Linked DNA regions of Homo sapiens. The protein of the gene in region 3 interacts with the protein of the main gene of each other region in a pairwise test. Each region holds a gene or a part of one and is shown on either strand. Other genes may lie near its edges. The genes, in order: ZNHIT6, NOP58 and NUFIP1.

Region 1 (8,900 bases), on a different chromosome or scaffold from region 3:
GCTTGGGTGGATCGTGGCCCACCTCAACTCAAGATGCTTATAAAAACACAAAGTTAGCCCAGCAAGTGTCCAAGGAGGCAGAAGAACACCAGGAAAGCTGATAACTGTGTATACCAGTTGGTTTAGAACAGTTGTCTTCTTCCCTCCACCCAAAAGTCTAGATGATTACCCAGAAGACAGCAGCTCTTGGAAATGGGATGGCAATGTGGGAGTACTGGAAGTTAACCTGAGAGGCGTATGCTCTTCATAGGAGGGCAGACTGGGGCTAGTGCAGCCCAGATTGTAACACCAGAGGCTTTCTACCATGATGCTCATCCACTCTTCTGCTTACCCTCCACACTGAAAAGAATAACCAGAAGAGTTGCAATCCAAATCCTATGCTTTTGATCCTACCTTTCAAATATGAATTACAACTATGCTTGCTAATACTCTCAAAGGAATAGGAGCTCACCAGAGAAAATATTATAAAATCTGGACTGTAATTCTAAAAGATTTTTTTAAGCTGGATAATTTATACTGGAGGGACAGAATTAATGGACAAAAAACTGAAGATTTTTAAAAGAGTCAAAAGTCGGGCATGGTGGCTCACGCCTGTAATCCCAGCACTTTGGGAGGCCAAGGTGGGTGGATCACCTGAGGTCAGGAGTTCAACACCAGCCTGGCTAATATGGCAAAACCCTGTCTCTACTAAAAATACAAAAATTATCTGGGTATGGTGGTGGGCACCTGTAATCCCAGCTACTGGGGAGGCTGAGGCAGGAGAATCACTTGAACCTGGGAGGCGGAGGTTGCAGTGAGCCAAGATAGCACCATTGCCCTCCAGACTGGACAACCAGAGCGAGACTCCATCTCAAAAAAATAAATAAATAAAACGAGTTAAAGGACTACCTTCAGAGAGATAAAAAGGGATATTAGAAATATGAAGCAAAATAAGCTACAGACAATGGTTATGAAAAACATAGTGACTGAAATGAGCTTAGTGGATAGGTTGACTAACAGATTGCATACCATCAAATACCAAAATAGTAAGGTAGAAATTACTTGGGGAACTCTCCCAGAAAGTATCTGGAAGCAATAAAGAGATGGGAAACATAAAAGTTAAAAGGTATGCAGAAAACTCTGATAACAAAACCTAACATTACAAGAAAAAAGAACTACAGATAAATAAACATCCTTCATAGACGAAAACTCCTAAACAAAATGTAAGTTAATTGAATACAATTATATAGAGATATTATAAAACATTTGAGTTTATTAAGGTTGCAGGATATGAAATCAAAATACAAAAATCAATTGTATTTCTGCAACCTAGCAATGAAAAATCCAAAATGAAATTAAATGAGTAATTTCATTCAAAATCACATCAAGGCCAGGTGTGGTGGCTCACGCCTGTAATTTCAGCACTTTGAGAAGCTGAGGTGGGCGGATCCCTTGAGCCCAGGAGTTTGAGACCATCCTGGGCAACATGGCAAAACCCCATCTCTACAAAAAATACCAAAAAAAATTTAGCTGGGCATGGTGGCATGCGCCTGTGGTCCCAGCTACTTGGGAGGTTGAGGTGGGAGAATAGCTTCAACTCAGGAGGTCGAGGCTGCAGTGAGCCATGATTTTGCCACTGTACTCCAGCCTGGGTGACAGAGGGAGACCCTGTGTCAATTTAAAAAAAAACAAAAACCACATCAAGAATAAAATGCTTAGGAATAAATTTAGCAAAAGATATGTAAAAACTTGTACACTGAAAACTACAAAGCATTGTTAAGTGAAGTTAAAGACAATATAAATAAATGGATGGCATTCCGTTTTCATGGATAAGACACAATGTTGTTAAGATGACAATCCTCCCCTCACTTATCTATATATTCCACACAATCCCTATGAAAATCCCACAAGTTCTTTTGTAGAAATTGACAAGCTGGCACTAAATACACAGAGATGCAAACAACCAAGAATAGCCAACACAATTTTCAAAAGAAAAGAAAGTTGGACTTACTATAAAGTTATAATAGAGTATGGTATTTGTGTAAGGATAGACATATAGATCAGTAAAACAGAATATAAGGTCCAGAAATAAATCTTTATCTTTGTGGTCAATTGATTTTTTTAAATATCAAGGCAATTCAAGGAAAAAGAATAGGCTTCAACAACTGGTGCTTGGACAATAAGATATCCATATTAAAAAAAAGAAACTTAAACCATTACCTTGTCCACCTTATGGATGATATCCTTAGTTCTGCCACATGTGGGTTCCACCAACCATGGATCAAATTTCCACAGCTGGTGGAACCTACAGATGTGGAACCATGGATGCAGATGGCAGATTGTAGGACTTGAGCGTTCTCAGATCTGTGGTGGTCCTGGAACCAATCCCCACAGAAACAGAGGGATGACTCTAGATACAAAAGCCAACTCAAAATGGATCACAGACCTAAATGTAAAAGCTAAAACTATAAAACTTCTAGAAAATATAGGAGAAATATCTCTTTGCAACCTTGGGCTAGGCAAAAAGTTATTAGTGTGACACAAAAAGCACCATTCATTTAAAAATTGAGAGGCTGGGTGCAGTGGCTCACTCCTGTAATCCCAGCACTTTGGGAGGTGGGTGGATTACCTGAGGTCAGGAGTTCGAGACCAGCCTGGCCAACATGGTGAAACTCCATCTCTAATAAAAATACAAAAATAATTAGTCAGGTGTGGTGGCACCTGCCTGTAGTCCCAGCTACTCGGGAGGCTGAGGCAGGAGAATCACTTGAACCCAGAAGGCGGAGGTTGCAGTGAGCAGAGATCCCGCCATTGCACTCCAGCCTGGGTGACAAGAGCGAGACTCCATCACAAAAAATAAAAATAAAAATTGATAAACTGGATTTAATTGAAGTGTAAAATTTTTGCTCTTTTAAAGATACAACTAAGAAAAGGAAAAGCCACAAACTGGGAGAAAATATTTGCGAACCATACAAGGAATTGGTATTAATTATGCATTGCTTTGTATCAATTATCCAGAAATTTGGCAGTTTAAAACAAGAAACATTTATCCCCTCCCACAATTTCTGAGTGTCCGGAATCTGGGTTCAGTTGTTGGCCAGAGCCGCAGTCATGTAAAGCTGGACTAAGACTAGAGAATCTTCCTCCAAACACATTCATATGCTATTGACAGGCTGAAATTCCTTGCTGATTGTTGGCCAGTGCATTCGTTTGCCAAGGCCACTATAATGAACTAGCATAGACTGAGTGACTTAAATTTATTTTCTCACAGTTCTAGACGCTAGAACTCCAAAATAAGTTGTCACCAGTCTTGTTTTTTTCTGAGGCCTCTCTCGCTGGCATGCAGGTGGCCACCTCACTGTATCATCGTATAGTCTTTTCTCTCTGCAGGCATCCCTCGTGTCTCTTTTTGTGTCCAAATTTCCTCTTCTTATAAAGATATCAGTCAGATTGGATTAGGGCCGACCTTAATGGTCTCATTTTAACGAAATCACCTTTAAAGGTCCTATCTCCAAATATACTCACAGTCTAAGGTACTGGGTGTTACGGATTTAACACACGAATTTGAGGGGACACAATTCAGCCTGTAAGAGCCAGTAACTTCGGCCCACTACCACATGGGCCTCTTGGTACTCACAACCTGGCAGCTTGCTTCCCCCAGAGTGAATGATCTAGGAAGGAGACCAAAAAAGCAAGAGCCTAAGGCAGAAACCACAGCCTTTCTCCAAACCTAATCTTAGAGGTAACGTATTACTTCTGCTGTATGCTATCAGTGACACAGACCAATCCTGGGATGATGCAGGAGCAGTCTACACATTGGTCTGAACACTGTGGGGGTGGAGAATCACTGGGGAACATACTGGTGCTTGTCTACCACAAACCTATATCCATAATATATGAAGAACTACTACAATTTGATAATAAAAGACGTCAATTAAAAATGGGCAAAAGATCTGAATAAACATTTCATTAAAGAAAATATCCAAATGGCCAGTTGGCAGATGAAAAGATGTTCAACATCATTAGTCATTAAAGAAATGTAAATTCTCAATGACGTACCCCTACACATCTATAATCAAATAACTGATAATACTAAGAATTGGCCGGGATGTAGAGAAATAGGAACCCTCAGCCAGTAGGAATGTAAAATGGTATAGCTACTTTGGAAAACAGTTTGGGCATTTCTTTAAAAATTAACATAAATTTATATGGCCCAGCAATTCCACTCCTAGTTATTTACTTAACGGGAAATGTAAACATGTCCACACAAAGACTTGCATATGAATGTGGAAGCAGAATTATTCGTAATAGCCCAAACTGGAAACAAGCCAAATGCCCACCAACTGGTACATGCATGAAAAAACGTGCCACATTCATACAATGCAATGTTATTCAGCAATACCGGGCATTAGGCACTTTCGCCTAATATATTTATGATGTTCTCTGAGAGAATCCTGCAGAATGCTGGGAATGGGGAATAGCCTGACGCAGGCTGTTACTTAGAAAGAATGGAAAGAAAAATTAATGCCCTCTTTCCTACTTGAAACCCATCATGATTCCCAGTTATACACTGAGTTTGTGTCTGTCACTGACAGTTGATTCCTATGCATGATCTCATATTATCTTCGCAATGACACTGGGAGATTTATATTAATAATACCATGCTCCCTAGTTTATAGCTTCAAGAAACTAAAGCTTGCAAAGGTGTAACATCAGGTGTGTCCTTTTTCATACAAGATTGGATTTAATGGTTAACACAGATAAGGGTGGGTTTTCCCATTTCCAGAGTGTAAGGGTTTCGCTTCTCTCCCTCTGCCGGTCTCCTCCACTGTTTACACCCAGTAGGGCGTGGAGGGTGGCCTAGGGTGTGGCCCAGGAGGCTTCCCTAAGGGAAGGGGGTGGTGGAAACCAGGCGGTTTGAAGCCCATCAGGATTCCCAGTTATATATCGAGTTTGTGTCCGTCACTGCTAGTTGATTTCCATGCATGATCTCATATAATCTTTGCAATGACACTGGGAGATTTATATTAATAATACCATGGTCCCTAGTTTATAGCTTTAAGAAACTAAAGCTTGGAAAGGCCTAATAACATCAGGTGTGTCCTCCATTTTCATGCAAGATTGGATTTAATGGTTAACACAGATTAGGGTGGGTTTTCCCACTTCCAGAGTGTAAGGGTTTCGCTTCTCTCCCTCTGCCGGTCTCCTACACTCTTTACACCCAGCAGGGCGTGGAGGGTGGCCCAGGGAGTGGCCCAGGAGGCTTCTCTAAGGGAAGAGGGTGGTGGAAACCAGGAAGGAGACGAGAACCCCAGCGGGCAAGTCACGCAGTTACGCTTGTTCGCCCAGAGAATCCGGCAGGGCCTCCGCAGAGCCGTAAAGAGCTCTACAAGTCGTGAAGGGGCGAGGCGCAAAAGCGTAGCTTTACGGCGATTCGAGCAGTCGCGTCAAGCAGGCTATTCCGGGTTTGTGGCTGCTTGGCTCCACACGTGGGCCGCCGTAGGTATTCCGACCGGTAATTCCTCCTATTGGTGTGCAGCAGCCACATTGAAGGATAGAGTGGCAGCAGAGGCCAAGGATCGTGAGTTGATGGAGTTTGCTGCTGAAAATGAAGGGAAGTCTGGGGGAGGTCTCCACAGCGTAGCTGAGGGGGTGCGGCTAAGTCCAGAGCCTGGCAGGGAGGGAGTAAGGGACTTAGCAGGGGCGGAGGAGTTCGGCGGCGGAGAGGAGGGGACAGGGCTGACAGGGATAAAGGAGATAGGGGATGGAGAGGAAGGAAGTGGACAAAGGCCAGAGGAAATACCGATGGACCTAACGGTAGTGAAGCAGGAAATTATAGACTGGCCAGGTACAGAAGGCAGGTTGGCTGGCCAGTGGGTAGAACAGGAGGTGGAGGATAGGCCTGAGGTGAAGGATGAGAACGCAGGCGTATTGGAGGTGAAGCAGGAGACGGATAGTAGTTTAGTGGTAAAAGAAGCGAAGGTGGGTGAACCAGAGGTAAAGGAAGAGAAGGTAAAGGAAGAGGTAATGGACTGGTCAGAAGTGAAGGAAGAGAAGGATAACTTGGAGATAAAACAGGAGGAGAAGTTTGTTGGTCAATGCATAAAAGAGGAATTGATGCATGGAGAGTGTGTAAAAGAAGAGAAGGATTTCCTGAAGAAAGAAATCGTGGATGATACAAAGGTGAAAGAAGAGCCTCCGATAAATCACCCGGTGGGCTGCAAGCGGAAACTGGCCATGTCAAGGTAGGGCATGGGGGATTCCATTTAGGGGAATAAAGCTGTGGAGTCCTCATGTCTAGAGTGAAGGAAACCACACTATCAGGAGAAGGTGGAATAATGAAAAATGAGCACAAGTTTGGGTTTCTGGAGTCAGACGGCGTTCGCGGGGGTGGGTTGGGAAGTGGAGGGTGTTGTACATGACAACACAACAAATTCAGTGAAAATACATGAAATTAGTAGTGTCCAATGGGTAATGGTCAAGTTAGGAAAGTGGAAATTCTGGGGACCAAAAGATCAGTTGGAACTGGATCTGGCTTGACTTAATATGCTCTTTACTCGGTATTCCTTTGAGAGAGAATAGAGATGAGAAAGTCTAATAAAACTAACAATGACAAAGTAGATTAAGTTAAAACTAGGCAAAAATACACTTGACCTCAATTATCAAGCTTCTTCATGGGTGCTGTGAATATTTATTGCTTTTGATTGAATTTCCTTAGTGTGTGGATCATGTGACAAAGGAAATAAGAGTAGTCAGATTCTTGAGAATATTCCCGTCTAGAACACAGTGGGCTAAATAGAAGTAACTGTAGTTTGGTTGTCAGTATCCCAGGAGCATAGAAGAGCAGTTGAGGACAGATGATGGGTTACATGGCATTTCTAGATTATTTCGATGCTCATTCTAGATTAGGCGTGGAGTTCAGGAAAAAGGGTGCTACTACTACTCTCTAAATTTCACTTGGCCTTATATTCTTTGTCTGGTGTGTGCTTTAAAAATATCTAAACATAGCTCATGAATTGGACTTCTGGATACACACACATACAATCATTACCACATTTCCAGGAATCACAAGTTAAAATATCAGTGAATAATCTCATTCCCTGATTATAGTAGAAAAAGAAGTCAAAAGCGAGATGGGTTTTAAAAATTTTAATACATTTTCCTGAGTTACATATCACTAACAACATTGGAAATGTAGTTGTTTTGGGAAGGTTTCATAGAGAAGAATTTTCAAATGATGTTCAACAGCTATCAAATATTTTATCAGTTACTTGTCACTGAGTTTATAAATTGATTGGGAATTCTAAGTTTATAAATAAATACAATTAATATTTGATAATTTAATGTTACATGTGGGCTTTTGTAGGTGTGAGACTTGTGGTACAGAAGAAGCAAAGTACAGATGTCCACGTTGTATGCGATATTCCTGCAGGTATACATGTAACTTCCTACCTTTTAACCTGTATCTGTACCTTTCTTACCCTAAAATATAAAAGTACTTCCCCTTTGTCTTTTCAGTTTGCCCTGTGTAAAGAAACACAAAGCAGAACTGACATGTAATGGAGTTCGAGATAAAACTGCATACATTTCAATACAACAGTTTACTGAAATGAATCTCCTAAGTGGTAAGCCACTTTATGCATAGCAAATTGAGGCTTCCTGGCCATTGGTATATGTCACTTGTTTATTCTTCTGTTTTGAAATTTTTAGATTATCGATTTTTGGAAGATGTGGCAAGAACAGCGGACCATATTTCTAGAGATGCTTTTTTGAAGAGACCAATAAGCAATAAATATGTAAGATTTTTTCCTAATTTCTTCCAGTTAGAAGTCCTTCAAATCAATTAGATTCTTTTTTTTTTTTTAACTTACCAAATATATTAAGTGGCTACCATGATGTAGAGCTATTCTGATTACTTAAGGATATGGCTGTGACCCAAACAAAGTCCGTCCCCTCGTGGAGTTGTATTTAGTGGGAGATATAGGAGATAAGTAGAGGAACAAATGTAATTTCAGATAGAGTTAAGTTCATATAGAAAATAAAGAAGGCTCAAGAGATTAAAGAGAGAATGAAAATGGTCTTTGTTGGGGAGAGATTGTCAGGGTACTATTTTCGATACAGTGGTCAGGAGAAGCTTCTCAAAGAGATGATGTGTAAGCAGTGATCTGAGTGCTGAGAAAGAGGCTGTCATGTGAACATTTGGAGGCAGATTATCCCAGGTAGGGACAAAAGTAAAAGGAAAGACCTGAGTCAGAAACAAGGATGTCTGGTTTGAGGAATTAAAAGATTTGCAAGGTAACTGAAGCATAGTGAGTGAGGAGGAGAGTATTGAAAATGAAGTTAGAGAAACTGGTGAGGAGTTGGGTGCAGTGGCTCATGCCTGTAATCCAAACACTTTGGGAGGCTGAGGCCAGAGCATTCCTTGAGCTCAGGAGTTCAAGACCAGCCTGGGCAACATGGTGAAAACCCGTCTCTATAAAACAATACAAAAATTAGCCAGGCGTGGTGGCGTGCCCCTGTACTCCCAGCAACTTGAGAAGCTGAGGTGGGAGGATCACCAGAGCCCAGGAAGGTCAAGGCTGCAGTGAGCCATGATTGCGCCACTACACTCCAGCCTGGGCAACAGAGTGAGACTCTGTCTCAAAAGAAAAAAGAAAAGAAACTGGTGAGGGTTTCTAATTCTAAGTGCAAATGGAAACCATGGAAGGGTTTTGAACATAAATTTGCCTTTTGAAAAACCACTCTTGCACTTTGTGAACTTTAGCGGGGCAAGAATGGAAGATTGGAAGCAGGGAGACCAATTATGCAGCTCTTCCCATGATCCTTGTGAGATAATAGTGGCTTGGGTGTACTGTTTGAATTATTGGGAAGGGATTAGATTGCGATTTTGAAGGAAGAGCTAACAAGACTTGCTATTCTAA
Region 2 (8,162 bases), on a different chromosome or scaffold from region 3:
ACAGGCTGGGTGCAGTGGCTCACGCCTGTAATCCAGCACTTTGGGAGGCCGAGGTGGGTGGATCACGAGGTCAGGAGTTTGAGACCAGCCTGACCAACATGGTGAAACCCCGTCTCTACTAAAAATGCAAAAATTAGCCGGGTGTGGAAGTGCGCACCTGTATAGTCCCAGCTACTCAGGAGGCTAAGGCAGGAGAATTCCTGAACCCGGGAGGTGGAGGTTGCAGTGAGTGCTGAAATCCTACCATTGCACTCCAGCCTGGGCAACAGAGTGAGACTCCATCTCAAAAAAAAAAAAAAAAAAAGAATGCCTGGCACAGAGTAGACACTCAAATATTTGTTGAATACATAAAAGATATTCACCACCCAGAACATCCCCTTCTTGTTACCAGGCACATGGAAGGTGTCTGACCAAAATGGTGTCTTTGGCTAATCTCATTAGGTTCCAAAAAGTCCCTGGAGGCTCTACTAGCACCTTGAAATTATCCCACCATTCACTCATTCCATTCATCCATTCATTTACTTAGTTACTAGTCATGTTTATGGAATCTCTACTACGTGCCAGATACTAGCCTAGTACTTGCAGATTTTGCAACTAACTTTTATAGAGTTTATATTCTAGTTGGAACAGGGGTGGAGTTGGGGTGTACAGAGAGGACAGACGAACCATGTTTCTCATCCTTGTTATTTCACCATGTTAGCCACCAGTAAAATTGTAAGCCCTGGCCGGGCGCAGTTGTTCACACCTGTAATCCCAGCACTGTGGGAGGCCAAGGTGGGCAGATCATCTGAGGCCAGGAGTTCGAGACCAGCCTGACCAACATGGAGAAACCCTGTCTCTACTAAAAATACAAAATTAGCTGGGCGTGGTGGCACATACCTGTAATCCCAGCTACTCGGAAGGCTAAGGCAGAAGAATCGCTTGAACCCGGGAAGCAGGGGTTGCGGTGAGCTGAGATCATGCCATTGCACTCCAGCCTGGGCAACAAGAGCGAAACTCTGTCTCAAAAAAAAAAAAAAATTGTAAGCCCTTCTATCATCTGTACTCTCCTATATTCTCCTTCTTATATTTCTTTGTGCTATCTCCCCTTCACTCAGTACTTTAACAAAGTACTAAGACTCTTACTTCTCCCTTGCAAGAGAAAATCTCCAATTACTGGCCGGGAGCAGTGGCTCATGCCTGTAATCCCAGCACTTTGGGAGGCCGAGGTGGGTGGATCATGAGGTCAGGAGTTCAAGACCAGCCTGGCCAACATGGTGAAACCCCATCTCTACTAAAAATACAAAAATTAGCAGGGTGTGGTGGCAGGGGCCTATAATCCCAGCTACCCAGGAGGCAGAGGCAGAAAATTGCTTGAACCCAAGAGACAGAGGTTGCAGTGAGCCAAGATCATGCCACTACACTCCAGCCTGGGCAGCAGAGCAAGACTGCATCTCAAAAAAAAAAAAAAGAAAGAAAGAAAATCTCCAATTACTTTATTTGGTCAAGTTACAAACCCAAAATCAGAGTCAGCTCTGAACTCCTGATTAAAGCATCATATGGAGGTGACTATGTAAATGGTAACGTGCAAGGACAAATTCTAGGACATACCATGGCAAAGAGATTTCTCATTGAATAAGTGGTTTCATTTCATTTTGGGAATAGGATTTAAGGCTTTACACGTAAAGAAAAGAATTTTTACTTCCTGCAGACATTCATTCATTAAATTTTTAAGAATTAATTAGATTCTATTTCATGAGTAGCACAACATAACATCCTATACAGACACAAATATGTGTAAAGTAGACTCAATTCTCTAGCAGATGTCACTTCTGCTAAGGAGACTAGACAGAAAAATACTGTGCAGTTAAATAACACTATAAACAGACATGGTGTTTCTAACATCTCACCCACCCACGCATACCCCTCTCCCAATCAGGTAATTTTCGTCTCTCTTGTCTCCCTGACCACACTGGATTACAGCTGTAACTATAATCAACCATGCTTTTTTTCTTTTTTGAGACAGGGTCTTGCTTAGTAGCCCAGGCTGGAGTGTAATGGTGAGATCATAGCAGGCGTGAACCATACACTCGGCCAATTATGCTCTTGAATTCACCCTAGGCCGGGCGTGGTAGCTCATGCCTGTAATCCCAGCACTTCGGGGGGCTGAGGCAGGCGGATCACCTGAGGTCAGGAGTTCAAGACCAGCCTGGCCAACATGGGGAAACCCCGTCTCTACTAAAAATACAAAAACTAGTTGGGCATGGTGGCGTGTGTCTGTAATCCCAGCTACTGGGGAGGCTGAGGCAGGAGAATCACTTGAGCCCAAGAGGCAGAGGCTTCAGTGAGCTGAGATCGTGACTGAGATCGCGACACTGCGCTCCAGCCCTGGCGACAGACTGAGACTCCGTTTCAAAAAAAAAAAAAAAAAAAGAATTCACCCTAGATTCCTCTGTCCTGTGACTTTCTGTTATTCAACCCAGGATTTTCTTTCCTCTTAATCTCAGGTTGCAGAGTTGCTACCTATTTAATGTTCCACAATCTTGAGCAGGTTGCAATTTTTTTTTTTAGATGGAGTCTCGCTGTGTCGCCTAGGCTGGAGTGCAGTAGTGCCACCTCGGCTCACTGCACCCTCCGCCTCCTGGGTTCAAGCAATTCTCCCAGCAGGTTGCAATTTAATGATTAGGAACAATCTGCATATAGGGCCTGGGAAGTGAGTAAGGAAATTTTACCCCTGTTGGAAGACAGACTTGTGAAACAACTGGGGTATTTAATCCCAGTCCCTGAGACTGAAAGGCTTCCAGAAAAGCAAGTAACACTAAATCAAGAAGACAGTCTAAATTCAGCCCCGCACAGTGGCTCATGCCTGTAATCCCAGCACTTTGGGAAGCCGAGGTGGGTGGATCACCTGAGGTCAGGAGTTCGAGACAAGCCTGACCATCATGGAGGAACCCCATCTCTACTAAAAATACAAAATTAGCCAGGCGTGGTGGTACATGCCTGTAATCCCAGCTACTCGGGAGGCTGAGGCAGGAGAATTGCTTGAACCCGGGAGGCAGAGGTTGCAGTAAGCAGAGATCATACCACTGCACTCCAGCCTAGGCAACAAGAGTGAAACTCCGTCTCAAAAAAAACAAAGAAGAAAAAGAAAAAAAAAAAGACATTCTAAATTCATACCCTGGGGTCATTTTAACAAATGCAGCAAAAATAGGAGAGGCTTATTGAAAGAAAACTGTGCTAATAATTCATTTGGCCAGACAGAAGGGAACGGCCAGGAATGCTCACAAATATAGTGACAGTAATGGTGTCATTCTGAGGCCTTCGCCTCAAGGCAGGGCTTGAAAGGGGATAAAGTCTAATGGCACTAGCTGGCATTTCAAATTCTAGATGCCTGAGGCAGACTGGCACCGAAACAGCTCCTCGTTTCTCTCAAAGTGAACATATAATTCATAGAGGGTTAACAAAATAATATCGTGAAGTTTTTCCCCTTTAAATCTCTAGCGGTGGCGGGGCGCGGTGGCTCACGCCTGTAATCCCAGCACTTTGGGAGGCCGAGGTGGGAGGATCCCTTGAGGTCAAGAGTCCGAGACCAGCCTGGGCAACATCGTGAAACCCTGTCTCTACAAAAAATTAGCTGGGTGTGGTGGCACAGGCCTGTAGTCCCAGCTGCTCCGGAGGGTGAAGTGGGAGGATCGCTTGAGCCTGGGAGTTGGAGGTTGCAGTGAGCCGTGATAGTGCCACTGCACTCCAGCTTGGGCAACAGCCAGACTGTCTCAAAAAAAAAAAAAAAAAAAAAAAAAAAAAAAAAAAAGGCCGGGCCTAGTGGGTCACGCCTGTAATCCCAGCACTTTGGGAGGCCGAGGCGGGCGTATCACGAGGTCAAGAGATCGAGACTATCCTGGCCAACATGCTGAAACCCCATCTCTACTAAAAATACAAAAATTAGCTGGGCGTGGTGGTGTGTGCCTCTAGTCCCAGCTACTGGGGAGGCTGAGGCAGGAGAATTTCTTTTTTTTTTTTTTTTTTTGAGACGGAGTCTCGCTCTGTCGCCCAGGCTGGAGTGCAGTGGCAGGATCTTGGTTCACTGCAAGCTCCGCCCCCTGGGTTCAGGCCATTCTCCTGCCTCAGCCTCCCGAGTAGCTGGGACTACAGGCGCCTGCAACCACACCCGGCTAATTTTTTGTATTTTTAGTAGAGACGGAGTTTCACCGTGTTAGCCAGGATGGTCTCGATCGATCTCCTGACCTTGTGATCCGCCCGCCTCGGCCTCCCAAAGTGCTGGGATTACAGGCGTGAGCCACTGCGCCCGGCTAGGAGAATTTCTTGAACCCGGGAGGCGGAGGTTGCAGTAAGCCGAGATCACACCACTGCACTCCAGCCTGGGTTACAGAGCGAGACTCCGTCTCCAAAAAAGAAAAAAAGAAAAAAGAAAAAAAGGCGCAAAGGCTCCGTTCAGGCCCTAGATCCCGCGATACAAACTTTCTCGGCCCGCCCCAGCCCGCTGTGGCGGGAACATTCTGGAAGTGACGGCAATCTCTGCGGCAGTCTTCTGTCGGAAGTGACGTTGCTATCCCAGAATCCTCAGAGAAGGAGTAGCGCGTTCGTGCGTCCTAGTTCCAGTACAGCGTGGAGGGTTTAGGCAGCGTGTTCTGATTCTTTGCGGGACGGCGAGCGCATTTGTGCTTTGCCCGCCGCGGCCTAGGAGGCCTTTTGAGGCCGCGTAGTCGGTGTTTTTGAACTGACTCTACAGCTTCTGGCAGGCCGTGCGGCGCCCTGACCCGGCCTCACCATGTTGGTGCTGTTTGAAACGTCTGTGGGTTACGCCATCTTTAAGGTAGGTGGGAGAGCGAGCCGTTAAAGGGGGAAGGCGGATGCTGGACAGACGAGGAGAGGGAAAGACTTAAGCACGGAACTACTCAGAGTAGCGTGGGTGCCTGTTATAGCCCGGGCTCTGGGAGGAGGGAGAAGGCCTTTACACCTGAGAGCCATGTTACGTGTAACACGTGGCCCCGCCGTTTGGGGAGACCCGTTCTGCATTAGAGGATTTTATTTCCTCCCGTTGAAGGGGTGGGCAGGAGGCGTGTTAGAATTTAACAGATTATAGGGAATTCGGACTTTATTCTAGATGTTTTGAGGAATGATCGAAAGATTTTTTTTTTTTTTGAGATGGAGTTTCGCTCTTGTTGCCCATGCTGGAGTGCAGTGGCGCAATCTTGGCTCACTGCAACCTCCGTCTCCCGGGTTCAAGCGATTCTCCTGCCTTGGCCTCCCGAGTAGCTGGGATTACAGGCCTCCATCCACCACCACGCCTGGCTAGTTGTTTTTGTTTGTTTGTTTGCTTTTAGTAGAGACGGGGTTTCACCATGTTGGCCAGGCTGGTCTTGAACTCCTGACCTCAAGCGATCCACCTGCCTCGGCCTCCCAAAGTGCTGGGATTACAGGCGTGAGCCACCGTGCTCGGCCAATCGAAAGGATTTAAGCAGAGGAATGACCTGCTAATTTGTCTTAATACGGTTACTCTGCTGTGTGGAGATTAGACTCGAGGAGATAAGAACGGCAGCAAGAATACTTTTGCATTCATTTGGACAAGATGAAATTGCCTGGTATGGAGAGAAACAAATATCGATAGAAATTGTGAAGGTAGAACAGGAAGGACTGGCTAATAGATTGAATGTGGGGTTTTGGTTTAAATAAGATGTTAAGAAAGTTTCTTGGGGAAGGACTAAAGATTTCCGGTTTGGGCTGTGCGAAGCTTGCGTTGTCTATTAGACCTGATAATGCAGTTGTGTAGATCGGGCAGTTCAGTATTTCAGATTTGAAGCTTAGGGGAAAACATCTGGGCTGGTGATGTCAGTTTGAGGTTTGGTTGTTTTCGTGGGGAAAGTTTGACAAGTTCGTCAGCACTGAAATGGTTGAATGGTAAGACATTCGTATCGCAAGATGCTGTTGAGATGTTAGGAAGAATGAGTGAGATTGAGTGCCTTTTCTTGTGCGGTGCAACTCTTCTGAGGTCTGTGAATATAGCAATGAAAAATAAAGTTTTTATGTATATTCTACATATATATATGTTGGTAGAAAGCAAAAACGCTAGGTAAAAATAAATGTAATACAATTTTAGCTATGAACCAAAAAACCATTTGTGGTGTGGATGCAAGAAAGTCTGGATGGGTGCAGAGTTCTCCATGTTTCACTTCTGACATTTGAAAATACGCAGTTTGCATTTGATACGTCAAATGTTATTTTTAAGAAAACCAATAAAATCATTAAAACCGAAAAGGCAGTTTTGCTTGTTTTTACCTTAGTTGGAGTTATCTGCAATTGCCGTATTAGTGTTTTAAGGAACTTGTAAGTAAGCTCCTTAGTCCCCTTTAGAGCTACGAAACATGTCAATTTTACTTTTCTCCAGCTTTTTGGAATCTTATCTAAATTACCATGTAGAGTTCTGCATAGCTTCAAATTCTCTTAGCCAATGTGGTCTGTAAGTGTCTATCGATGAATTTCACCGTTAATTGCCGTAGTATACTGTCCTGTACCGGATGTGAAGAGGAGCAACTCTGCACAGTGCACTGGTTGTCTCCCATGGTAGGAAGGAATTGGCTTATCAATGGTCGGATTTCTAGACCTGGGTCCTAAAATACTCAACCGTGTCTCGATGAATTACTGATTTCTATTAATGAAAAGTGTCCTCCTCCATGAAAATGTCTTTGAGTATTCCGTTGGAGTTTGCAGTGCTATTTATCTGCAAGTTACTGTTCAAAATGATTAAATTGTGGTTTATGTAACCTAGTACTAAAGAAATAACTAGTTAAGCTCGAATATGTTGACATTGATTAGTTTGTAATTATTGGAATTAACATTGATCGTTTCTGAGTATAAAAGACATACAAACGTTCTGGAACTAGTGATGGCTGCACATTTTTGTGAAAATGCACTACTAAAAAGTGAATTGTACACTTTAAAAGGGCAAATATTAAGATACATGTAAAATTAATATGATATATGGTGAATTTTATCTCCTAAAAAAGTAGACATACGGTTCAAAGTTATTAGTTTCCTTTCCCATAATCTTTCAAAATGCTAGGGTATAAAATTATGTTGGTTGCCAGGCATGGTGGCTCATGCCTGTAATCCCAGCACTTTGGGAGGCCGAGGCCGGCGGATCACAAGGTCAGGAGTTTGAGACCAGCCTAACCAACATGGTGAAACCCCGTCTCTACTAAAAAAATAGAAAAATTAGCTGGGCGTGGTGGTGTGCGCCTGTAATCTCAGCTACTTGGGAGGCTGAGGCGGGAGCATTGCTTGAACCCGGGAGGCGGAGGTTGTGGTGAGCTGAGATCGTGCCATTGCACTCCAGCCTGGGCAATAAGAGCACAACTCCGTCTCAAAAAAAAAAATTATATTGGATGCATATAATTCATGCTTTGATGAGAATGCTTTAGGAAGTTTTTTGAAGTTTTTTGTTTTTTTGTTTTTTTTGAGACGGAGTTTCACTCTTGTTGCCCAGGCTGGAGTGCAATGGCGCGATCTTGGCTCACCACAACCTCTGCCTCCCAGGATCAAGCAATTCTCCTGCCTCAGCCTCCCGAGTAGCTGGGATTACCAGCATGCACCACCACGCCCAGCTAATTTTGTATGTTTAGTAGTGACAGGGTTTCTCCATGTTGAGGCTGGTCTCGAACTCCTGACCTCAGGTGATCTGCCCGCCTCAGCCTCCCAAAGTGCTGGGATTACAGGCGTGAGCCACTGCACCTGGCCTTGAAGTTTTTTTTAAACTTCCATTTACAGTGAGGAAAACATTTTATGTATAACCCATGTACACATACAAATTCATGTTTATGTATTTAAAATTTATTTTGAGGCAGGGTCTTGCTCTGTCACCCAGGCTGGGGTGCAGTGGCAGGATCATGGCTCATTGCAGCCTTGGCCTCCTGGGTCAAGTGATCCTCCCACCTCCTCCCGAGTAGCTGGGACTACAGGCTCAAGCCACCATGCCTGGCTAATTATTTATTTATTTGTATTTGTATTTATTTATTTTTTGAGATGGAGTCTCACTCTGTTGCCCAGGCTGGAGTGCAGTGGTGTGATCTCGGCTCACTGCAACCTCCGCCTCCTGGGTTCAAACGATTTTCCTGCCTCAGCCTCCCAAGTAGCTGGGATTACAGGCGTGAGCCACCATGCCTGGC
Region 3 (8,180 bases):
CTGTGGTCCTAGAAGCATGGGAGGCTGAGGCAGGAGGATTCCTTGAGCCCAGGAAGTCGAGGCTACTTTATCAACTAAGTTTATATAATATTATAAATCCTTTGTTGTCATTTCAACAGTGTTCACAGCATCTTCACCAGGAGTAGATTCCTTCTCAAAAAAGCACTTTCTTTCCTCATCCATAAGAAGCCACTTCTCATCCATTAAAGGTTTACCATGAGATTGCAGCAAGTCACATCTTGTGGCTCCACTTCTTTTTTTTTTTTTTTTTTTGAGATGGAGTCTTGCTCTGTTGCCCAGGCTGGAGTGCAGTGGCTCGATCTTGGCTCATTGCAAGCTCTGCCTCCCAGGTTCACGCCGTTCTCCTGCCTCAGCCTCCCTAGTAGCTGGGACTACAGGCGCCCACCACCACGCCCGGCTGATTTTTTTGTATTTTTAGTAGAGATGGGGTTTCACCATGTTAGCCAGGATGGTCTCGATCGCCTGACCTCGTGATCCACCCACCTCAGCCTCCCAAAGTGTTGGGATTATAGGCGTGAGCCACTGCGCCTGGCCCCTCCACTTCTAATTGTAGTTCTCTTGCAGTTTCTACTACATCTGAGGTGACTTCCTCCACTGAAGTCTTGAATTCCTCAAAATCGTCTATGAGGGTTGGAATTTCTTCTTTCAAACTCCTGTTAATGTTGATCTTTTGACCTCCTTCCATAAATCATGAATGTTCTTAATGGTATCTTGAATAGTGAATCAAAACCTCCTTTCTAGAAGGTTTTTAATCTACTTTGCTCAGATCCATTAGAGGAATCACTATCTATGAATCACTGTGGATTTCTTTCAAGAACTTTTCATCCAGACACGGTGGCTCACGACTGTAATCCCAGCACTTCAGGAGGGCAGAGCAGGAGGATCCCTTGAGCCCAGGAGTTTGAGGCTGCAATGAGCTATGACTGCACCTTTATATTCCAGCCTGGCTGACAGTGAGACCCTTTCTCAGTAGTTGCATTCACAACTTGGCTAGCCGTTTGGCACAAGAGGCCTGGCTTTTGGCTTGTATCAGCTTTCAACGTGTCTTCCTCACTAAGCTTAATCATTTCTGGCTTTCGATTTAAAATGAGAGACATGTGACTCTTCCTTTTGCTTGAACACTTAGAGACCATGATAGGGTTATTAATTGGCCTACTTTTGAATATTGCGTCTCAGAGGATAGGGAGGCCTGAGGAGAGGGAGAGGAGAACCACCGGTTGGTAGAGCAGTTAGAACATACACAGCATTTATAAAGTTCACCATCTTATATGGCCACGATTCATGGTGTCTCAAAACAATTACAGTAGTAGCATCAAAGATCACTGATCACAGATCAGTATAACAGACGTAATAAAAATGAAAAAGTTTGAAATATTTCGAGAATCACCAAAATGTGACACAAAGACAGCACATTGTTGTTGGAAAAATGGTGCTGATAGACCTGCTTGATGTAGGGTTGCCGCAGACCCTTAGCTTGCAAAAAGCTGTGTAAAACGAAGTGCAGTGAAATGAGATGTGCTTTTATACCTTAAAGGTGGGGACTGCATGATTTACTGAAAGATAGGATATATGGGATGCAAGATAAAGAGGAGAGAAGGATAATTTAAAGTTTTTTTGCCAAACAATTGGAAGGATGGAGTTGCTATTAACTGAGATAGGTAAGAATGTGGATGGAGCAGATTTGGAAGGAAGTCCAGGAATTAAAGTTGGAATATATTTGTGTCAGGTAGAGATATTGAATAGGCTTTTAGCTATTAGTCTACTTTCAGGGGAGATTTGTGGCTGGAGCTATAAATTTGGGTGTTGACACCATATAGATCATATTTCAAGCTACAAGAGTGTTAATTTAAAACCATTCTCCAACTTTGCAGAAAATTCAATTCTGCATTCCATAAAAAATGATGAGTTCATATCCTTTGTAGGGACATGGATGAAATTGGAAGTCATCATTCTCAGTAAACTATTGCAAGGACAGAAAACCAAACACCACATGTTCTCTCTCATAGATGGGAATTGAACAATGAGAACACATGGACACAGGAAGGAGAACATCACACTCTGGGGACTGTTGTGGGGTGGGGGGAACGGGGAGGTATAGCATTAGGAGATATACCTAATGCTAAATGACGAGTTAATGGGTGCAGCACACCAGTATGGCACATGTATACATATGTAACTAACCTGCACATTGTGCACACGTACCCTAAAACTTAAAGTATAATAATAAAAAAAAATTCAATTCTGCATTAAACTGAATCTGAACAATTAGTGTTTTATTTTTATTTTATTTTATTTATTTTTTTAAATAGAGTCTCTTGCTGTCACCCAGGCTAGAGTACAGTGGCACCATCTCGGCTCACTGCAGCCTCCACCTCCTGGGTTCAAGGGATCCTTCTGCCTCAGCCTCCTGAGTAGCTGGGACTACAGGCACGCACTACCACACCTGGCTAATTTTTTGTATTTTTGGTAGAGACTGGGTTTCACCATGTTGGCCAGGCTGGTCTCGAGCTCCTGACCTCAAGTGATCTGCTTGCCTTGGCCTCCCAAAGCACTGGGAATACAGGAATGAGCCATCACACCTGGCCCAAACAGTTAGTGTTTATTGTATGGCAGATGCTGGAAATACGGACTTGGCTGAGTCAGATGAGATATGTTATAAGTATGAATCAAAATACAGTGTGACTGATGATAGAGGCATATAATAGCTGATTTCAGAATGTAGAGGAAATTGGGAAAAGCTTTTGGAAGAAGTGTCTTAGGAGATGTATAGAATTTGGGAAGAGATGTTTCCTAGGTAGAGAAAGAGGTGTCAGTACAAGGCAAGTTCTGGAGATTGCAGGGTTCTGGTGTGACTGAAGCAGAGTATGTGAAAGGTATGGGGAAGGGTAGGGTAAGAAAATAAATTAGAATCTCATGGAAGGTCTCTAGGAAGCTGTCTTAGTCCCTATTGTGCTGCCATAACAGAGTATGACCTGTTGGGTAATATATAATGAACAGAAATTTATTTGGCTCATAGTTCTTGAGGTTATGTCCAAGATCAAGGGGCTGTTGAGGACCTTCTTGCTGCATGGTGACATCAAGAAAGGCATCACATGGTGAGAGAGAGTGAGAGAAGGTCAAACTCATCCTTTATTATTGTTGCTTTTTGAGACAGGGTCTTGTTCTGTGGCCCAGGCTGGAGTGCAGTGGCACATATATGGCTCACTGCAGCCTCAACCTGCTGGGCTCAAGTGATTCTCCCATCTCAGCCTCACAAGTAGCTGGGACTACAGGCACATACCACCAAGCTTGGCTAATTTTTGTATTTTTTGTAGAGACAGAGTTTCGCCAGGCTGCTCAGGCTGATCTCAAACTCTTGGGCTCAAGTGGTCTGCCCGCCTTGGCCTCCCAAAGTGTTGGAATTATAGATGTGAGCCATCATGCCAGCCCCTCCCTCAACTTTTTTTTTTTTTTTATTTGAGACGGGGGGCTGGGTGCGGTGGCTCACGCCTGTAATCCCAGCACTTTGGGAGGCCGAGGCAGGTGGATCACTTGAGGTCAGGAGTTCGAGACCAGCCTGGCCAACATGGTGAAACTCTGTCTCTACTAAAAAATACGAAAATTACCTGAGCATGGTGGCACATGCCTGTAATCCCAGCTACTCGGGAGGCTGAGGCAGGAGAATCGCTTGAACCTGGGAAGCAGAGGTTGCAGTGAGCCAAGATTGTGCCACTGCACTCTAGGCTGGCCAACAAGAGCGAAACTGCATCTCCCCCGCCAAAAAAAATAAAATAAAATAAGAGACAGGGTCAGCTGGGCATGGTGGCTCACGCTTGCAGTCCCAGGACTTTGGAGGCTGAGGCAGGCAGATCGGTTGAGCCCAGGAGTGTGAGATCAGCCTGGGCAACATAGTGAGACCCCATCTCTATACAAAGAATAATTTTTTTAAAAGAGACAGAGACAGGGTCTTGTGCTGTTGCCTAGACTGGAGTGTAGTGGCATGATCATAGCTTACTGCAGCCTCAAACTCCTGAACTCAAGTGATCCTCCCACCTCAGCCTCCACAGTAGCTAGGACTACAGGTGCATGCCATCATGCCAAGCTAATTTTTAAATTTTTTTGTAGAGATGGGGTCATGTGAGGTTACCCAGGCTGGTCATGAACTCCTGGCCTTGAGTAGTTCTCCTGTCTCAGCCTCCCAAAGTGCTAGGATTATAGGCATGAGCCACCACGCCTGGTCCATATGCAAATTTTTGAGCCAGGTTGTGACAGGATTGGAGAATTTTTTTTTTTTTTTGGTGTCAGTATGTAAGGTTTGTTGGAAGAGGGGGCTTATGAACTGGAAGACAATATAGGAGTAATCTGGTGGAAGATCAGAATTTCTGACTTGGGGCATGGTAATAAGAATGGAAAAGTACAGTGGGATTTGAGAGGAGATATATTTCACAAGGTTCTGTTTTCCTGGTGCGAAATTGATGCTGAAGGAGCAGTGTTGGGGATTTTACTGGTTACATTTCTAATATTTGAAATAACCGAAGGAATTTCATCAGGTTAGGTTGTCCATTTCTGCACTTTGACGCCTAAAGTTTCTGTGGACATATAATCACACCAGTCTTTCTTTGTTTGAAAAATAGTCATTTGGTAGACTAATCTTAATCTTTGTTATTTTGTTTGAACTAGTATTCTTCCTAGAAGGGTAGTTTACTAGTGTTTTTACTGAAATATTTGTAACATGCTGTAGTAGATAAAATTTAATTATAATTTAAATAATTACATTGTTGCAAACATTTATGGATCTTTTTTTTTTTAGTTAAAAATTCTTATTATCCACGAAAGTATGATGCAAAATTCACAGACTTCAGCTTACCTCCCAGTAGAAAACAGAAAAAAAAGGTATTTGAAAGATGTTCTTGAATTTGACCCCTTGGTCCCTATGTTACTGTTTCATATCTTGCATTTCTGTCATAACTGTCTTCAGTGTTTTGCTTCCATTATTGACACAGTGGAGCCTTGCTATAAAAAGGAATTTTATGGTTAAACATGAATATAGCAAATTGGGATTCAAAAATAATACATAACTAAATTTTTGTTTCTTTTCTGTGGTTTTAGAAATAGATATATATTTGATACTTTTATTTTACCTTATTTTTTTTTAGATGGAGTTTCACTCTGTCGCCCAGGCTGGAGTGCAGTGGTACGATCTTGGCTCACTGCAACCTCCGCCTCCTGGGTTCAAGCAATTCTCCTGCCTCAGCCTCCCAGAGTAGCTGGGACTGCAGGTGCGCACCACCACACCTGGCTAATTTTTGTAGTTTTAGTAGAGTTGGGGTTTTACTGTGTTGGCCAGGCTGGTCTCGAACTCCTGACCTCAAGTGACCCGCCCACCTCCGCCTCCCAAAGTGCTGGGATTAAGGCGTGAGCCACCATGCCTGGCCATATAGTTGATACTTGAACAACGCAACAGTTAGAGGTGCAGTCAGAAGTTTGTGTGTAACTTTTGACTCCTCTAAAACTTAACTACTAATGGTCTACTATTGACTGGAAGTCTTACCAATAACATAAATAGTCGGTTAGTATAGAAATGAAATGGTGTCCACATATATTTTATACCTTCTTGACATACTTTTTTTTTTGATATTTCTAAGGCTATGTGGTTTATCTGTGAGTTTTTCCAAATTGTCACAAATCTCCAAAAAAATTTTCCAATATATTTACTGAAAAAAATCCTTTTATAAGTGGACCCTTGCAGTTCAAACCTGTGTTGTTCAAGGGTCAGCTGTAGTTATTTTTTTCTAAAAGATGAGCTGCTGTTTTTATTCTATTTATTTTCAGATCATTTCAACATATTCTGTACTGAGTCTTAATTAGATAACCAATTTGCAATCTGCTCATAATTTATATTAGCACTATTTGGATTAAAAAAGTTTAAAATTATGCCTGGGTTTCACTAATATATTTGTTAAAAACAAAATGAAAGAAAGAAATAGAATAATCTCTTCATTGGAAATATACTCACAAGCTTCTCCCACACGAAAGGGTTATTGGAAACATCAAAGTGTGTATTACTAGAATGATAGTTATGTTTTTATTATTGATTACAGATTTTTCACCAAAAGCCTAATTCCTCTCTGTTTTTGTTTGCAGAAAAGAAAGGAACCAGTTTTTCACTTTTTTTGTGATACCTGTGATCGTGGTTTTAAAAATCAAGAAAAGTATGACAAACACATGTCTGAACATACAAAAGTAGGTTTTCTTAGTTGTCCTGAAACTGATGTAGCAATTGTGCTTCTTCTATCTGTATATTTGGTAGAAATGCCAAGCTTGTTTTCCTTTAAAGTTTATAGTTTCTGTAGAGATATAGTTTGACAACTTGACAGATAGGGGCAGTGACCCTGGGGTTTGAAAGTGGGGATCCCGCTGCTTCAGGGACGAGGTAAGATGGTAGCAAAGAAGGGAGCTCTGACAGCTTTTTGTATGTGTGTACCTCTACTGCTTGGGAAGAGGCTGTCCTCTCCTCTAGTTACCTTGTGCATCTTAATGAGTTCTTTCCCCTTTAAGTCTGCCCTTGACCATTAAACCATACTGTGTAATGTGGCTGTGCCTATCACCCTCAAAGGCTGGTCCACACCTTGTCAGGTACTAGCTAGAAAACTTTAACCAAAATGTTTAAAAGGTTTAAAAGGAAGCCTTTGGTTTTGAAAGGTTCTTTTTCTGTTTTTGGGAATGCCCCTCAACTTTAGGAATTAAGAGCATTTCACAGGTTTATTGATGTATGCCTTTGCTCAAATGGAGAAGTAAATAAGATATATTATTGTGCCACATACTCTGAGAGTGTCATTCCTTTGCCTAAAGGCAGCCCTGTTTTGGAGTCATTTTTGTATGCAGAGATAATACTATACAGATGGGATAACTATGTAATACAGCCAGAATATGTCTGTGTATGTATAGTGGGGTAAATTTAACATGGAAAACATTTGTTAAATAGTTTTTTTTTTCTTTTAAAAACTCATAGTGCCCTGAATTAGATTGCTCTTTTACTGCACACGAGAAGATTGTCCAGTTCCATTGGAGAAATGTAAGTTCTGTTTTTTTATCCTATTTTTAAATACATGCTCTTTTTATTGATCTGTTATCTTCACAACTGTTTATTTATATACCTAATAATAGGTAACACTAATGGAGTACTTTGTAAGGATTTTGACATCATTTATTCAACTTTTTCCTCACAAACAACTATGGTTGTTTATATTGGCCCCATTTAAAATATTTTAAAAAATGAATTGCCCAAGGCCTGAGAATTGATTCTTGGACCTCAGTTTCTTGACTCCAAATTGTATACTGCTTTACTACACCATGCTGCTACAGATTGTCACGTCTACTCATATCTTTAGTGGCCTCTCTAGGTTTTGATTGGTAAGTCATTCATTTGGGTGTTTAATGTCATTTGAGAGAATGGGTGGCATATCTACTTTGTAATCAAAATTATGTTACCCCTTTTCCCTCTATTAATAGCACTAATTAAATACATGATAGATTCTTCTTCCTTTAAAGGAAAAGTTATAACACAAATAGATACAACCTGCTTACTTGGTTTTAAAATTGTGTCCAACATAAGTTTACTTGTAGAAACAAAGTCTCCAAGTTAGTCAAAAGCATATGATATTGCCTCCTGATGTTCAGCAGGCTTTTTCCCCCTAGATGCATGCTCCTGGCATGAAGAAGATCAAGTTAGACACTCCAGAGGAAATTGCACGGTGGAGGGAAGAAAGAAGGAAGTGAGTAGAGTTCAGAACTGGTGAAATAACTGTTTTACTGTGACAAGGCTTATTAATGTAGTTAAATTCATTGAATTCCCTTAGAATGTTGGAACTAGGGAAGAGGACCATAAGGCATATTATGTAAGACTATTATTGAACGTAGTTTTAGGAAGACCTAATAAGAACTCTTCATTTAAGTAGCAAATGTGTCATAATGGGACTGTATGTTGCTCTTTGAGGGGGGCTACTGCATGTCACCTGTCAGATGTTCAGTGGTTGAGGCAATAATGGGTGGGTACTCTTACCAAAAAGTGTATTATACAGAAGTGTATTATCACAGAACAGTACATCTGGCACATGACTACCCATGTCAGTGGATTTAAACTGAAACCTTAAACTAAGGTGAGCTAAGTACAAATGTAA

Evidence for each region.
Region 1: the proteins of NUFIP1 (region 3) and ZNHIT6 interact in binary tests that used the Homo sapiens proteins (3 or more experiments, as listed by UniProt).
Region 2: the proteins of NUFIP1 (region 3) and NOP58 interact in binary tests that used the Homo sapiens proteins (3 or more experiments, as listed by UniProt).

Annotation. Positions count from the first base shown.
Region 1 is NC_000001.11:85,704,953-85,713,852, reverse strand, and holds the start of ZNHIT6 (box C/D snoRNA protein 1), read left to right. Parts: upstream 1-5,419; 5' UTR 5,420-5,568; coding exon 5,569-6,224; intron 6,225-7,345; coding exon 7,346-7,411; intron 7,412-7,497; coding exon 7,498-7,604; intron 7,605-7,689; coding exon 7,690-7,775; intron 7,776-8,900. UniProt on the Homo sapiens protein: Required for box C/D snoRNAs accumulation involved in snoRNA processing, snoRNA transport to the nucleolus and ribosome biogenesis.
Region 2 is NC_000002.12:202,261,174-202,269,335, forward strand, and holds the start of NOP58 (nucleolar protein 58), read left to right. Parts: upstream 1-4,589; 5' UTR 4,590-4,768; coding exon 4,769-4,813; intron 4,814-8,162. UniProt on the Homo sapiens protein: Required for the biogenesis of box C/D snoRNAs such as U3, U8 and U14 snoRNAs. Part of the small subunit (SSU) processome, first precursor of the small eukaryotic ribosomal subunit.
Region 3 is NC_000013.11:44,978,785-44,986,964, reverse strand, and holds part of NUFIP1 (FMR1-interacting protein NUFIP1), read left to right. Parts: intron 1-4,810; coding exon 4,811-4,893; intron 4,894-6,144; coding exon 6,145-6,243; intron 6,244-7,012; coding exon 7,013-7,075; intron 7,076-7,698; coding exon 7,699-7,775; intron 7,776-8,180. UniProt on the Homo sapiens protein: Binds RNA.